Linked DNA regions of Homo sapiens. The protein of the gene in region 1 interacts with the protein of each later gene in a pairwise test. Each region holds a gene or a part of one and is shown on either strand. Other genes may lie near its edges.

Region 1 (3,500 bases):
ATTACTATTATTTTCAACTATTTATTATAAATAAATTCAGATATACTGGAAAGTAGAAAAATAGCATCAATGTTACTGCATTGAAATAATACCCATATTTCAGGTAGAATAATTTTTAACCTTTTGCCACATTTTTAATACAACGTTTAATTTTGACTCTTTCGATGAACAGTTTTAAAGTAAATTACAGATATCCTGACACTTTAACCCTAAATAATTCAACATGCATCTCTCAAAAGTGACATTCTTTTACATAATCATCATACTGTTATTAAAACAAGTGATTACTCTTACACTTTTTAAAGTTATAAACATTTTTAAACAAAGAAGGTCTAACAACAGATAATGGGGGCAGGTGCTAGTGGGCAGGGTCAGGGGAAGCATGACCATAAAGAAGCAAGTGGTGAGCAGCGAACACTGATAAGGCCCAGCAGTGTTCACTGTGCTCTTGGTAGAGGCAGGCCTCTATCAGGCAGTAGGACACAGAGGTCGATGGGCTCAGAATAGGAATTTATCCTCTACGGGAGTTGGTAGGAGCCAGAAATTAATGCAGGTTTTAACAAAATATCTAAGAGTATGGTCATGAAAACAGAAGTACAAGAGAAAAGCCAAGTTGAAGCTTCTCATAGGATGAGATGGATAGAGGTAGAGACCAGAACCAGACCACCAGAATGCTGACAAACCAGATGGGTCTTGGGGACTGGGTGGGTCTGAGTTCATGTGAGCTTTTTCAATTCTGAATCCTTGCATATTTTGCTACCATCACTCCTTTATTCAGGCCATTTTCTCTGTAGAAAATTTCACCTTTTCTAACTTCAACTGACAAAAATCATATCAGCTCCAAGGCCATCTTCTCCACTTCTACTGTGGAGAAGATAGCCTTCCATAGGAGATTGTTTTATCTAGACACTGTCACAGCCCTCAGCCCACACAACACTGCATTCTAACTCTACATGCATATGAATCCTCCATCTCTGCACAGCCATGCCTTCTTTATTGTAGTCTCCTCTATGCTGCCTTGCCTGGCGTCATCATACAACAGATAGATCTATGACCCAGTAGAAGAGTGAATGAATGAAACAAAGTGACTCCCCACAACATGGACAGTCTGTGGGACAGATTTCCACTTGTAAGTAGAAGGAAGTCACCCTTTGGAGGAACAGAAAAACACCACAACTGAAGAGGAAATTCACTTGAGTTATGAAGAGATGGAACTGTACACTAGTTACATACTAATTATACAACCACAGAAGAACCACCTTCCGTTTTTAGAATCCAAGATTACAGAGCTGTGCACAGAAGAGGAACAAGCTGTATTGCTGTAGTTAGTGTCACACCGCTGTAAACAGGTTCCACTGAAATTTTGACTTTACGTTTCTTAGCTGAATAAATTTTTCTAGTCCTGAAAATGAATTCTACACAAAATTCAATAATGTTCTGATTAACTAGAATGCTGGCCTGGCTTTGTGTACATGTGCATGTATATTATGTGAGGAATAGAAAGAATAATGTCTTTTATAGTAAACTTTGTTATAATCACAGAACTTTCTTTGCTTCTCTCAGTTCATATTAAGAACTATGAACATGTACTAGTATAGTAAGATGAGAGAAATTTGATGAAAACCAGGAGGTTACATCAGCAGTCAAGCATGAAGGCTCTGGAGCAAAACTCTTGGATTTGAAGGTATGTTAGAATGGAAACTTAAGCATGTGATTAAAACTCTGTTCTTTACTTTTCTCATCTATAAATGGGGACAACATTAGTAATAATACCCACCTCACAGCAATGTGTAAATTAAACAAGTTCACATGGGCAAAGGGCTTAAACTAGTGCTTAGCACATGATAAGCATCCAATAATTACTAATTGCCATTACTAGAATACATACCTTTGACCAGTGGGCTCTACAAAGCAGCACCATGCAGTGGAAAGCTCTGGGGTAAGTTCCTAGGTGTGTCTCTCAGCTCCACTACTTACAAAGTCTGTGACCTGGATCGTATACTTAGCTTATTGAAGTCACCTTTTGCGTCTATGAAATGAGTATGGTGATATCGTATTGAAAGTGTTATTGTGAAGCCTAAATGGCATTATGCGTGTGAATGGTATGGTGCTGATGCATAGTAGGTGGTCAGTAAATTAGGACTATCACAGCAGGGAAACAACCTGGTTTGTGAAGTCAGCATGGGTTTTGAACACAGACACTCAGAGACTGTAGGCAACCTGATTTTTCTGCTCTTGAGTCTCTTCCTGTGTAAAGCTGGAATACCAGTGCCTTTCAAAGACCAGAGCTGGTGTCTACAAAATGCCTGCCTTATAATACGGACTCATTTTGTTTATTATCATTTATTCCGTGGGTCAGCAAACCACCAGCTGAGGGTTAATTCCTGTCAGACACCTGTTTTAGTATGGACTGGGAGCCAAGAATGGCTGTACATTTTGAAATGCTTGAGGGAAATAGAAAAATATTCATAAAAATTATATGAAATTCACATTTCAGTGTATAAATAACGTTTTGTTTGAACACCATCACGGTCATTTGTTTCTGTGTTCTCTGGTAGTTTTTGCACAACAGCAGATGTGAGTAGTTGAGGTAGAGACTGTAAGGCCTGCAAAGCCTAAAACATTCGTTACCCGGCCCTTTATAAAAAAAAGGTTTGCTGCTCCATGGTCTACTCTAAACTTCTCTTATATGTGACTAATTAGTTATCAATTTATTTAAATATTCAGAGCTTGGAATCTAGTTCTTTGGCACTGGCCAATCCAGCCAAACACTGGCACTTTCTTATACAACTTTCGATTTGAGAAAGTATTTAAAAAAGAGAACGTTTATTATGTTTCTCACTTGGAGTTACAACTGACTAGATCATTTGAATATTTAATTTTAAAGTATGCTAAAACACTTTCATTTTGTTATTTCTTTTGTGTTTATACATATATATAGCTATATGTAGAAATAGTATAGTAACCTTTGTTAAAGCCAAAGAATTGCTGGAATTTTCAGTAATTTAACTAGCTATTCTTTACCAGTTTGTTACTTAGGTGATATCTCCAGTATTTGTTACTTGTTTTATTTTGCCATATTTTCATTTTGCAAGCAGCAAACAGCCTGACCCATCTCCTCGTTCATGGTCCACCTCCTTCCTCTCCCCTGATTCTCCACACCCTCACTTCTTGCCCTCCCCACACCTCTCTTCCCCCTAAGCCCATACCCTCCCCTGAGAAGTGTAAGCGAAGCTGAGCAACAATTTAAGATGGTTTTATTTCTCCTTTGCTTCTGGACACATTAATGTATTTTAGATGAAAGAAAATTAATGATTTTAGGCTGACACTCTATAAATGAGACATGGAAAAGCACTGTGTTGCTTGATTTAGGTATTTTAGAAAATAATAAACCTGTACTCTGAGCAAGTTGTATATGTCCTGGAAAGGCAAGTGATGGATTTGCTGCAGTTCAGGGCTCAATTTACAGGATTTACATATTCCAGAGCCTGAAAAAAACA
Region 2 (3,963 bases), on another chromosome or scaffold:
TTGAACTCCTGACCTCATGATCCACCTGCCTCAGCATCCCAAAGTGCTGGGATTACAGGTGTGAGCCACTGCACCCAGACCAACTTAATTCTTAAGATAAAATGTATTATAGTATTATGGCTGGGCACAGTGGCTCACACCGAGATCGCGCCACTGCACTCCAGCCTAGGCAATAGAGCCAGACTCCATCTAAAAAAAAAAAAAAAAAAAAAAGAGTATTACAGTATTATGTAAACAACCACTCTAGTGCTATAAGTGTGACCTAAGTACTTAGCACTTTAACAAATTGATGTAAGTACTTAGTACTTTAACAAATTAGATCTGAAGTTGAAACACAGTTGCTGGTTTTCAGAAAACCGTTCTGGATTTAAGGGTTTCTGGATAGGCGACCTCAGAACATGGCACCTTATGTCCATTTTCACGCTGCTGATAAAGACATATCCAAGAGTGGGTAACTTATTATTATTATTATTTTAGACAGAGTTTCACTCTTGTTGCCCAGGCTGGAGTGCAATGGCACCATCTCAGCTCACTGCAACCTCTGCCTCCTAGGTTCAAGTGATTCTCCTGCCTCAGCCTCCCAAAGTAGCTGGGATTACAGGCGCCCGCCACCATGCCCAGCTAATTTCTTTTTGGTATTTTTAGTTGAGACGGGGTTTCACCATGTTGGCCAGGCTGGTCTTGAACTCCTGACCTCAGTTGATCCACCCGCCTCAGCCTCCCAAAGTGCTGGGATTACAGGCGTGAGCCACCGAGCCTGGCAAGAGTGGGTAACTTATAAAGAAAAAGAGGTTTAACTGCCGCAGTTCCACGTGGCTGGGGAAGCCTCAAAATCATGGCAGAAGGCAAAAGGCACGTCTTACATGGTGGCAGGCAAGAGAGAATGAGAGCCAAATGAAAGGGGAAACCCCTTGTAAAACCATCAAATCTCATGAGACATTCACTACCACCAGAACAGTGTGGGGAAAACTACCCCATGATTCAATTACCTCTCCTCAGGTCCCTCCCACAACACATGAGAATTATGGGAACTACAACTCCCATGAGATTTGGGTGGGGACACAGCCAAACCATATCACTTGGCATTTGAGGAAATAACAGTAGCAGGAAGGTCCCCCTCAGACCTTCTTTTGCCCCTCTTCCCTGAAGCAGGCCATAAAAGAATTCTCTGCTCTTCCTCTGAAGAAGATCATAAGACTCTCAAGTGAGAGGTGCTTTTCCCATACCCAGAGGAACACTCTTATCTCTTGGGATATGAAAGAGCAAAATAAATGCCCCTTTATCAACTAAGATGGGCCCTAAGGTTAAGAAAACAAAAATTGGCCGGTGCGGTGCCTCACGCCTGTAATCCCAGCACTTTGGGAGGCCAAGGTGGGCAGATCACGAGGGCAGATGTTCGAGACCAGCCTGGCCAACATGGTGAAACCCCGTTTCTACTAAAAAATACAAAAATTAGCTGGGCGTGGTGGCGGGCGCCTATAGTCCCAGCTACTCGGAGAGGCTGAGGCAGGAAAATGGCGTGAACCCGGTAGGCGGAGCTTGCAGTGAGCCGAGATCGTACTACTGCACTCCAGCCTGGGCAACAGAGCGAGACTCCGTCTCAAAAAAAAAAAAAAAAAAGAAAGAAAGAAAGAAAGAAAAAAAGAAAACAAAAATTGCCCACGGGTCAAGGGTTCAGGGATTGGCCGGCACGGCAACTTCCCAGATTCCTAAAGCTACAAGAAAAACTACACTCGTGGCAGGGCGCGTGGCTCACACCTGTAATCCCAGCACTTTGGGAGGCCAAGGCGGGTGGATCACCTGAGGTCAGGAGTTGGACACCAGCCTGACCAATATAGTGAAACCCCTTCTCTACTAAAAGTACAAAATTAGCCGGACGTGGTGGCTGGCGCACGCGTGTAATCCCAGCTACTTGGAAGGCTGTGGCAGGAGAATCGCTTGAACCGAGGAGGCGGAGGTTGCAGTGAGTTGAGAGTCCGCGCACCGTTGGCACCGCGATGAGGGCGGGAAGCACAGCGCGGGGCCCCCGGGAGCAAGAACGCCGCGGGCACCCAGCCCTCGTGGGAGGCGGCGGTCGGGGCACGCCCCGGGCCGAACCAGGCTCTGCACTCCCGCGGGTGCCCGGACCTGAAGGGTCGTCCGCTGGCTCCAGGATTCTGCATCCCCGACCCGCTCCGGGTGCGCCGAGGCTGCTGGGACTTCGCTGCGGGAGCGCGCCCGGGGCCCCGGGGCCTGCACGGAAGGCGGCTGCGGGGAGGGTGGCCGGGCAGAGGCTTCGGTCCCGGGCGCCCCCTCCCCGGCCGGACCCCCCTCCCCGGCCGGACCCCGAGTCTGCAGTCTCCGCAGGTGTGCCGCGTGCGGGTAGAGACGGACGTGGGGCTGGACGCGGGCACTCAGGGACGGACGGGTGGGGGACCGACGGCCGGGGGAACAGAGGGCGTGGAGAGACGGCCGTGGGGACAGGGGGGCGGGTGGGCGCGGGAAAGGACGGACTGGGGGACTGAAGGACTGGGGTCCCGCGCCCGATGGACGGAGGCGCCAAGGACCAGCGGACTCGGGGGCGACTGGGCGACGGTGGGCGCAGCAGGGCGGAGGCACGGACAGAGGACGTACCTACAGGCCCGGCCCGGCCGCCTTCGCCTGATCCCGAGACCCACGGCGAGCCTCGCGCCGCCGCCGCCTCCCCTCCGCCTTACCTAGGGCCAGCATGTAGCCCTCGAAGTTGTCGCTGCTGAGCAGGGTCCAAGTACCGCTGAGGTCGGCGGGCATGGTCGGGGATCGCGGGACAAACCCGGCGGGCGGCCGGAGGCTCGGGCCGGGACCTATAAACCAGGCGGGGCGGGGCAGGGGGGTGGGGCCGCGCGCGGGAGGAGCAGGTGGGGCCGCGTGGGTCCCACTCACCCCTAGAAGCCGCTGCGCTCCCGGCCGCCTCAGCCCGGTGCTCCTGGCTCTGCCCACCGCGCGGCAGCTTCCCCCTTTCCTTGGGGCTTCCTCTCCTACTGCTTTCTCATGTCCCAGACTGTTTCGGGCCACATTTTCTTCCCTGCTTATATGTTAATGACCCAGGGATGATCTTCAAACTCATGGCATTGAATATTGTCAGCTTCAATAACAATATACCTCTCAACGTAACTCTCATGGTCTCAATAAATAGGAGTTTATTTTTCTTAACAAGGAGTCCTGAGAGAAGTGATTGCTGGTGATGATTCGCACCTAGGAATCACAGTGATTCGCACCTCGGTAACGCCGCAGCTTCGTCTCTGTGACTCTGGTGGCCTTTTATTCCTGCTTGTTACCTCCTGGTCATGAGCTGGCAGCTGGGTTCCCAGCCAGGACATCCACATTCAAGGTAGGGAAGAGGGAAAGCACCAAAGGTCAGTATCCCTGCAGCACAAACCTCCCCATCTCCTATAAGTCTGGATAGTTGGAAAAAAGAAAAGAAATTACCCAGCAGGTTTCTGTGTACATTTCATTAGCCAAAACTGTATCAATGCCACTTCTAACTGCAAGGGGGCCTGGGGATTCTAGTCTGCAGCATTTAGCCTCAGAGCAGAGAAAAGCAAAGGAGAAGGGGTGGGAATATGGGCTAACCTACAACATTAGCCACAAACACCGCCTAGATATGCTGGCTCCAAGACTGACTTATTGATTTTATTTTTATTTTTTTTCTTTTGAGACAGAGTCTCACTCTTTCTTTTTTCTTTTTTTTTTTTTTTTTGAGACGGAGTCTCGCTCTGTGCCCAGGCTGGAGTGCAGTGGAGAGATCTCGGCTCACTGCAAGCTCCGCCTCCGGGGTTCACGCCATTCTCCTGCCTCAGCCTCCCGAGTAGCTGGGACTACAGGCGCCCGCCAACACGCCCGGCTAACTTTTTATATTTTTATTAGAGACGGGGTTTCACCGTGTTAGCCAGGATGGTCTCGATCTCATGACCTTGTGATCCGCCCGCCTTGGCCTCCCAAAGT

The links. The genes of interacting proteins can lie anywhere in the genome.
Region 2: the proteins of DAPP1 (region 1) and RBP7 interact in a two-hybrid assay, tested with the Homo sapiens proteins (one large-scale study listed by BioGRID and IntAct).

Annotation. Positions count from the first base shown.
Region 1 is NC_000004.12:99,819,827-99,823,326, reverse strand, and holds part of DAPP1 (dual adapter for phosphotyrosine and 3-phosphotyrosine and 3-phosphoinositide), read right to left. Parts: intron 1-3,500. UniProt on the Homo sapiens protein: May act as a B-cell-associated adapter that regulates B-cell antigen receptor (BCR)-signaling downstream of PI3K.
Region 2 is NC_000001.11:9,996,065-10,000,027, reverse strand, and holds the start of RBP7 (retinoid-binding protein 7), read right to left. Parts: upstream 2,801-3,963; 5' UTR 2,770-2,800; coding exon 2,697-2,769; intron 2,347-2,696; coding exon of another isoform or gene 1,998-2,346; exon of another isoform or gene 1,939-1,997; intron 1-1,938. Other genes in the region: translation initiation factor IF-2-like, read left to right, coding at 1,998-2,346, 3,176-3,309. UniProt on the Homo sapiens protein: Intracellular transport of retinol.